Homo sapiens: one gene and its partner. The protein of the gene in region 2 interacts with the protein of the main gene of each other region in a pairwise test. Each region holds a gene or a part of one and is shown on either strand. Other genes may lie near its edges.

The links. The genes of interacting proteins can lie anywhere in the genome.
Region 1: the proteins of TFRC (region 2) and PAGE1 interact in binary tests that used the Homo sapiens proteins (3 or more experiments, as listed by UniProt).

The regions. Positions count from the first base shown.
Region 1 is NC_000023.11:49,689,385-49,693,143, forward strand, and holds part of PAGE1 (P antigen family member 1), read right to left. Parts: intron 1,991-3,759; coding exon 1,865-1,990; intron 160-1,864; coding exon 34-159; intron 1-33.
Region 2 is NC_000003.12:196,054,476-196,058,234, forward strand, and holds part of TFRC (transferrin receptor protein 1), read right to left. Parts: intron 827-3,759; coding exon 605-826; intron 1-604. UniProt on the Homo sapiens protein: Cellular uptake of iron occurs via receptor-mediated endocytosis of ligand-occupied transferrin receptor into specialized endosomes. Endosomal acidification leads to iron release.

The DNA.
Region 1 (3,759 bases), on a different chromosome or scaffold from region 2:
CCCTACAATTTGCATGCCTAATGGATTGCCTACCTTCCTCAGGTGTTTTCACCTCCTCTGGATTTGGCAGGCCCAACTCCTGGACATCAGGACCATCTCCGCGCTCACACCCAGTCTTCGGGTGAACCTGTTCCTGGCTATCCGCTTCAGGCTCTGGCCCTTAAAAAAAAAAAAAAAAAAAAAAAAAAAAAATATATATATATATATATATATATATATATATATATACATATACATATATATATACATATACATATATATGTGTGTGTATATATATATATACATATACATATATGTGTGTATATATATACACATATATATGTGTATATATGTATATATGTATATATACACACATATATGTATATGTGTATATATACATATATATGTGTGTATATATACACACATATATATGTATATATATGTGTATATACACACATATATGTGTATATATGTGTGTATATACACACATATATAGGTGTGTATATATGTGTATATACACACATATATAGGTGTATATATATGTGTATATACACACATATATAGGGTGTATATATATGTGTGTATATACACACATATATATGTGTATATATATGTGTGTATATACACACATATATATGTGTATATATATGTGTGTATATACACACATATATATGTGTATATATGTGTATATATGTGTATATACACACATATATATGTGTATATATGTGTATATATGTGTATATATACACATATATATGTGTATATATACACATATATATGTGTATATATATAATCAATTTAAGCAGTAAAACATGAAATATGAACAAGAAAATAATATTCATGCTCTCAGTGTTATTAAATAAAAGCTTTCACTAGTGTAATAATAAATGTGTTGATAAGAATCCCAAGAACATGATTTCAGGAGTCTGTTGGCAGAAAACAGGAAAACAGGGTTTTCCAAATATTACCCTCTTCCTTTCCGAAGACTGCCCTCAGACAACTTTGTTGCTGCCTTTGCACTTCTTTATTATTCTACTTCTGATTGTCCTTATCATATTAAATGACTCAAGACTGAAACCCTGTCTCTCACAGCACTTACACTCCTGGCACTTAGACTCCTACATGGCATGAGTAGCCACCAATAAACGCTGAGTGAAAAAAGTTCTTTAAAAAATACATGAAAAATCCCCAAATCCTGAACATTCTGCACACCAACTTGTCTATCCTCTTCAAAAATGTCCGTATCCTGAATGACAAAGAAAAATTAAGGAAACATTCCAGATTAAAGGAAACTAGAAACACATGACAAGCACATGTAAGACGTGATCTTGAACTGGACTCTGGATCAGAAAAAGAAATTCTATAAAGGAAATTATCTGGGCCAGGCATGGTGGCTCACACCTTTAATGCCAACATTTTGGGATGCCAAGGTGGGCAGATCACTTGAGGTCGGGAGTTCAAGACCAGCCTGGCTAATGTGGTGAAATCCCGTCTCTACTAAAATACAAAAAAAAAAAAAAAAGAAACATTTATTTGTCAGGCACTGTGGCAGGGCTGTAACCTCAGGACTTTGGGAGGCTAAGCTGGGTGGATCATCTGAGGTCAGGAGTTCGACACCTGCCTGTGCAACATGACAAAACCCCGTCTCTACTAAAATTACAAAAATTAGGTGCCTGTGGTGGCATACGCCTGTAATCCTAGCTGCTCGGGAGGCTGAGGCAGGAGAATCACTTAAACCCAGCAGGTGGATGTTGCAGTGAGCCAAGATTGAGCCACTGCACTCCAGCCTGGGTGACAGAGTGAGACTCCATCTCAGAAAAAAAAGAAAATTATAATACTGTGGAAACAGACACCCTACAATTTGCATGCTTAATGGACTACCTACCTTCTGCGGGCAGTTTCATCTGCTCTTCATTTCGCAGGCACACCCTCTTGGTATCAGGACCATCTCCAAGCTCACACCCAGTCTTTGGCTGAACCAGTTCCTGGCTATCAGCTTCAGGCTCCTGCCCTTAAAGATAAAACAAAATTATCATTTTAAGCAGCAACACATGAAATATGAATAAGAAAATAATATTCATGCTCTTGGTCTTATTAAATAAAAGCTTTAGGTACTGTAATAATAAATGTGTTGATAAGAATCCCAAGAACATTATTTCAGGAGTCTGTTGGCAGAAGACAGGAAAACAGGGTTTTCCAAATATTACCCTCTTCCTTTCTGAAGACTGCCCTCAGACAACTTTGTTGCCTCCTTTGCACTTATCTGTTATTGTATTTCTGATTGTCCTTATTATATTAAATGACTCAAGGCTGACATCCTGTCTCTCATTAGCATTTAGACTCCTAGCACCTAGCAAGTTATATGGCATGAGTAGGCACCAATAAATGGTGAGTGAAAAAACAGTCTTTAGAAACTACACAAAAAAGCCCAAAGTGCTAAACGTTCCGCAAACCAACTGGTCTATCCTCTTGAAAAATGTCAGTATCAGCCAGCCGGGCGTGGTGGCTCACACCTGGAATCCCAGCACTTTGGGAGACCGAGGTGGGCGGATCATCTGAGGTCAGGAGTTAGAGACCAGCCTGGCCAACATGGTGAAACCCAGGCTCTGCTAAAAATACAAAAGAAAAAATAAATTAGGCAGGTGCGGTGGCCATTGCCTGTAGTCCCAACTACTCAGGAGGCTGAGGCATGAGAATCTCTTGAGCCTGGGAGGCAGAGTTTAGAGAGAGCCGAGATCTTGCCACTGCACTCCAACCTGGGCAACAGAGTGAGACTCCGTCTGAAAAAAAAAAATAAGAAAGAAAAAAGAAAATTATCTGGATAACTGGCAAAATCTGAGTATACTCTGTGTATTAAATGACTGCAGGTTCTCATTGTTAAATGTCCTGAGTTTGATCATTGTGCAGTGATTATCCAAGGAATGACTTTTTCTTTGTTCTGAGGATATATAAACACTTTCAAGTACTTAGGGTAAAGGGCCATAATAGCTGAAACCTTATCTGAACAATGCAGCATTAATAAGAGTAAACATAATATCCGTAAGTGTGTGTGTGAGTGTGTGGGCAGCAGGGTAAGAGAGGGAGGGAAGAGACATGAAAACAATGGAGCAGAAGCTATTAACAATTGGTGAATCTAGGTGAAAAGTATATGAGTTCATTGTACTATTCTTGCAAATTTTCTACAAATGTTATGTCTTGAAAATATATAAAGTAAAAACTTGTAAGAATATATGACAACTACACTGAACTTTAGGAAGACAGAAGTTTTTTTTTAATTGTGTTAAAAAATACACATAACATAAAATTTACCATGGTAACTAATTTTAAGTGTTATAGTTCAGTAAGGAGTTATGGTTGCAACATTACCAGCAGCTAAGAACAAACTTTACATGTTTGTTTTCCTATATAACGAAACATTTATTATTTATTTATTTATTTATTTGCGATGAGGTCTCCCTATGTTTCCCAGGCTGGTCTTGAACCCTAGGCTCAAGCGATCCTCTCACCTCAGCCTCCCAAGTAGCTGGGACTATGATTTCACAGCACTAAGCCCAGTTTGAGACCTTTCTACTAAATGACAATCTAAGGATAAACCACAGGACATGTATAATACTTATATTCGGCCATAGAGTACCAACAGCAGTGTGCATCAGCTGAGAAATCTGAAGTCTACATCATGGATAGGATTTCAGTTACAATTACAGTGTCAGTTTCTGAAGGATTGAGCAGCTGGATGGATTTGAGGACTATGGAAAATCTTACAGTCACGACACCCATTGT
Region 2 (3,759 bases):
ATTAAGAGATCTGTTAAAAATCAACTCCTAGTACCATAAAACAATCTGGAAGCTACTTTAATATTAGTTTTATTAATTTATTTAGAGATGGGATTTTGCTATGTTGCCTGGGCTGGACTCCAGCAATCCTCCTGCCTCAGCAGAAGTAGCTGGGGCTACGGGTATGCACCACCTCACCCTGCTTATCAGTTTCGTTTAATAGAATATTTGACTTTTAGATGCGCAGATCACTACGAGATGGAATCCTGCTAGCTGTGCTGTCTTTCCATCCGGGTCACGCCCGAGAGGCACACAGCCCAACTCCTTGCTGAGATCTTCATATTCCGTGTCCTACTGACGGGCTGCCTGGGAGACATGAGTGACAGAAAACCTGACACTGCTCTGGATTCTGAAACACCTGCTGAGCTCTGTCCTAGGTCTCTAATCCACAGCCTCCCGACTTCTCTCAAACAAGTTACCAATTCTACATACAATTATACCTCAGTTCACTTTAAAATGTACTATGGCTACAATCACCCTTCCAACAGGAACACACAGGAACACATCACATTTCAAAATACTTGACATTCAGCAAAATAAAAACGTAATTGGAATCAGTGCTCACCTTTATGTCTGCTCTGTATTGGTTCAGATCCCTCACAAATGAAAGCAGTTGGCTGTTGTACCTCTCATAGTCCAGGTTCAATTCAACATCATGGGTTAGTTTAATCACGAACTGACCAGCGACCTCTGCAGCTGCTCGTGCCACTTTGTTCAACTCAGGAATCCTCTCAATCAGTTCCTTATAGGTGTCCATGGTGGTACCCAAATAAGGATAATCTGTGTCCTGCAAGACAACGCGAGGCTATGGTACTCACGTGAGTTCTAAGAGCAAGAGCCTCACATTCTGGCTTCGCCATCGAGGTAACAGTGACGACAGTTCCACCCTTGCTTCTAACATATTCCTACCGCAATTTACCCCAATTCTATCTCATTATCTGCTGCTTTAAGTACATTCTTGCTACTTCTCTCAAGCTAACCTACTCCTAGAGTGACTACTTTCTTCCAGGTTCTACAGAATCCCTGTTCTATCGTATCATATGCCCTGAATAGACTTCTAGCCAAATTCCTTAAGGCTGTATGTTTTTCTCTCTGGGAAGTTTGGGCCTTTATCAATGAAAAAAGAGAAGATACATGAAACATACCTTGAGACGAGGTCTCTCTGTCACCCAGGCTAGAGTGCAGTGATGCAATCACGACTCCCCACAGCCTTGAGACAAGGTCTCTCTGTCACCCAGGCTAGAGTGCAGCAATGCAATCATGACTCCCCGCAGCCTTGAGACAAGGTCTCTGTCACCCAGGCTAGAGTGCAGCGATGCAATCATGACTCCCTGCAGCCTTGAGACGAGGTCTCTCTCTGTCACCCAGGCTGGAGTGCAGTGATGCAATCATGGCTCCCTCTAGCCTTGAGACGAGGTCACTCTGTCACCCAGGCTAGAGTGCAGTGATGCAATCACAGCTCCCCGCAGCCTTGAGACGAGGCCTCTCTCTGTCACCCAGGCTGGAGTGCAGTGATGCAATCATGGCTCCCTGCAGCCTTGAGACGAGGTCACTCTGTCACCCAGGCTGGAGCGTGGTGATGCAATCATGGCTCCCCACAGCCTTAAGCTCCTAGCTCAAGTGACCCCCCTGCCTCAGCCTCCCAAGGAGTTGGGACTACAGCTGGCCACTGGGCCACTTAATTTAAAAAATTTTTTGTAGAGATATAGTCTAGGCACGTTACCCAGGCTGGTCTCACTCCTGGCCTCAAGTGATCTGCCCACCTCAGCCACCCAATGTGCCGGAATTATAGGTGTGAGTTACTGCACCCAGCCTGAGGAAAATACTGTTCAGCTGGACTGTCCAATAGATAGCCACTGCTCAATCACTCAAGAAATTCAGCCTTGGTTTTTTTTTTGTTGTTGTTAGACGATCTTGCTCTGTTGCCCAGGCTAGAGTGCAATGGCACGATCTCGGCTCACTGCAACCTCTGCCCCCTGGGTTCAAGCGATTCTTCCACCTCAGCCTCCTGAGCAGCTGGGATTATAGGCATGTGCCACCATGCCCAGCTAATTTTTTTGTATTTTTAGTAGAGATGGGGTTTAACCATGTTGGCCAGGCTGGTCTTGAACTCCTGACCTCAAGTGATCTACCCGCCTTGGCCTCCCAAATGCTGGGATTACAGGTATGACCCACCACACTCGGCCAAGCCTCATTATTAAAACTCATAAAGAAGTTTTAGCAATAAACTCAAATGCTAATTAAGCTAATTGAGATTAACAAGTCTATGTTAAAACTAATAATGAAGGAACATGCAATAATTACATGTGTATAACTTTTTTTTTTGAGACAGGGTCTTGCTCTGTCACCCAAGCTGCAGTGCAGTGGCTCCATCTCAGCTCACTGCAACCTCTGCCTCCCAGGTTCAAGCGATTCTCCTGCCTCAGCCTCCTGAGTAGCTGGGGTTACAGGCACACGCCACTATGTCCGACTAATTTTTGTATTTTTAGCAGAGACGGGGTTTCACCATTTTGGTCAGGCTAGTCTCAAACTCCTGACTTCGTAATCCGCCTTCCTTGGCCTCCCAAAGTGCTGGGATTAAGGGAGGAGACCACCCCTCATATTGTCTTATGCCCAATTTCTGCCTCCAAAGAAAGAAGAAGTAAAAACTAAAAGGCAGAGGTGGACAGCCCAGCGCTGCCGCACCCTGGTCCTGGTTAAAGATCGAGCCCTGACCTAACCAGTTATGTTATCTATAGATTCCAGACATTGTATAGAAAAGCACTGTGAAAATCCCGTCCTGTTCTGTTCTGTTCTAATTACCGGTGCATGCAACCCCCAGTCACGTACCCCCTGCTTGCCCAATTGATCACGACCCTCTCACGCAGACTCCCTTAGTTGTAAGCCCTTAAAAAGGTCAGGAATTGCTCACTCGGGGAGCTCAGTTTTTGGAGACGTGAGTCTTGCCAAAGCTCCCAGCCAAATAAAGCCCTTCCTTCTTTAACTCGGTGTCTGAGGGGATTTGTCTGCGGCTTGTCCTGCTACAGGATTACAGGCGTGAGCTACCACATCCAGCACATGTGTATAACTTCTTAAAACATTTTAAGCACTGCAGTAAATTTGGTCTCAAAGTTGACACAAGAAGATCCATGGCCAGGTGTAGTAAGTAGCTCTTGCCTATAATCCAAACAGTTTGGAGGCTGAAGGGGGAGGACTGCTTGAGGCTGCAGTGAGCCATGATCGGGCCACTGCACCCCAGCCTGGGTGACAGAGCAAGTCACCATTGTCAAAAAAAAAAAAAAAAACAAAACAAAAAACAAACAAAAAAAACCCAACAACTAAGATATGTGCAAGTTGTCAAAATCAAAATGGAGTCACTAGTGTTAACAAAAATGCAACCCTGAAGAGAAGGGTCTCACCCTTGTATGTCTGATAACAAGGATTAAGGGTTTTTTTTTTTCCTTTTTACAAAAACTACAACCTTACACAAAGGCCACTGCAACCTTGCACCAAAAAACTTCTCTCGTGAGAAAATCTGCCTAGCAACTGCCTGTCAACCTTGGACTGGTGTCATCCTTGTTATTGATCTTGGTAGCCAAGAATAATTACCTCAAAGTAATTTTGTAATCCTCGTCATTTGTCCTTAAAAACTTGTTTTCCTTTACTCCTCTGAATATGTACATAGTTGACTATAGCACAGGCATTCCCATTGCAATGCCCTATTCCCAAATACAGATCACT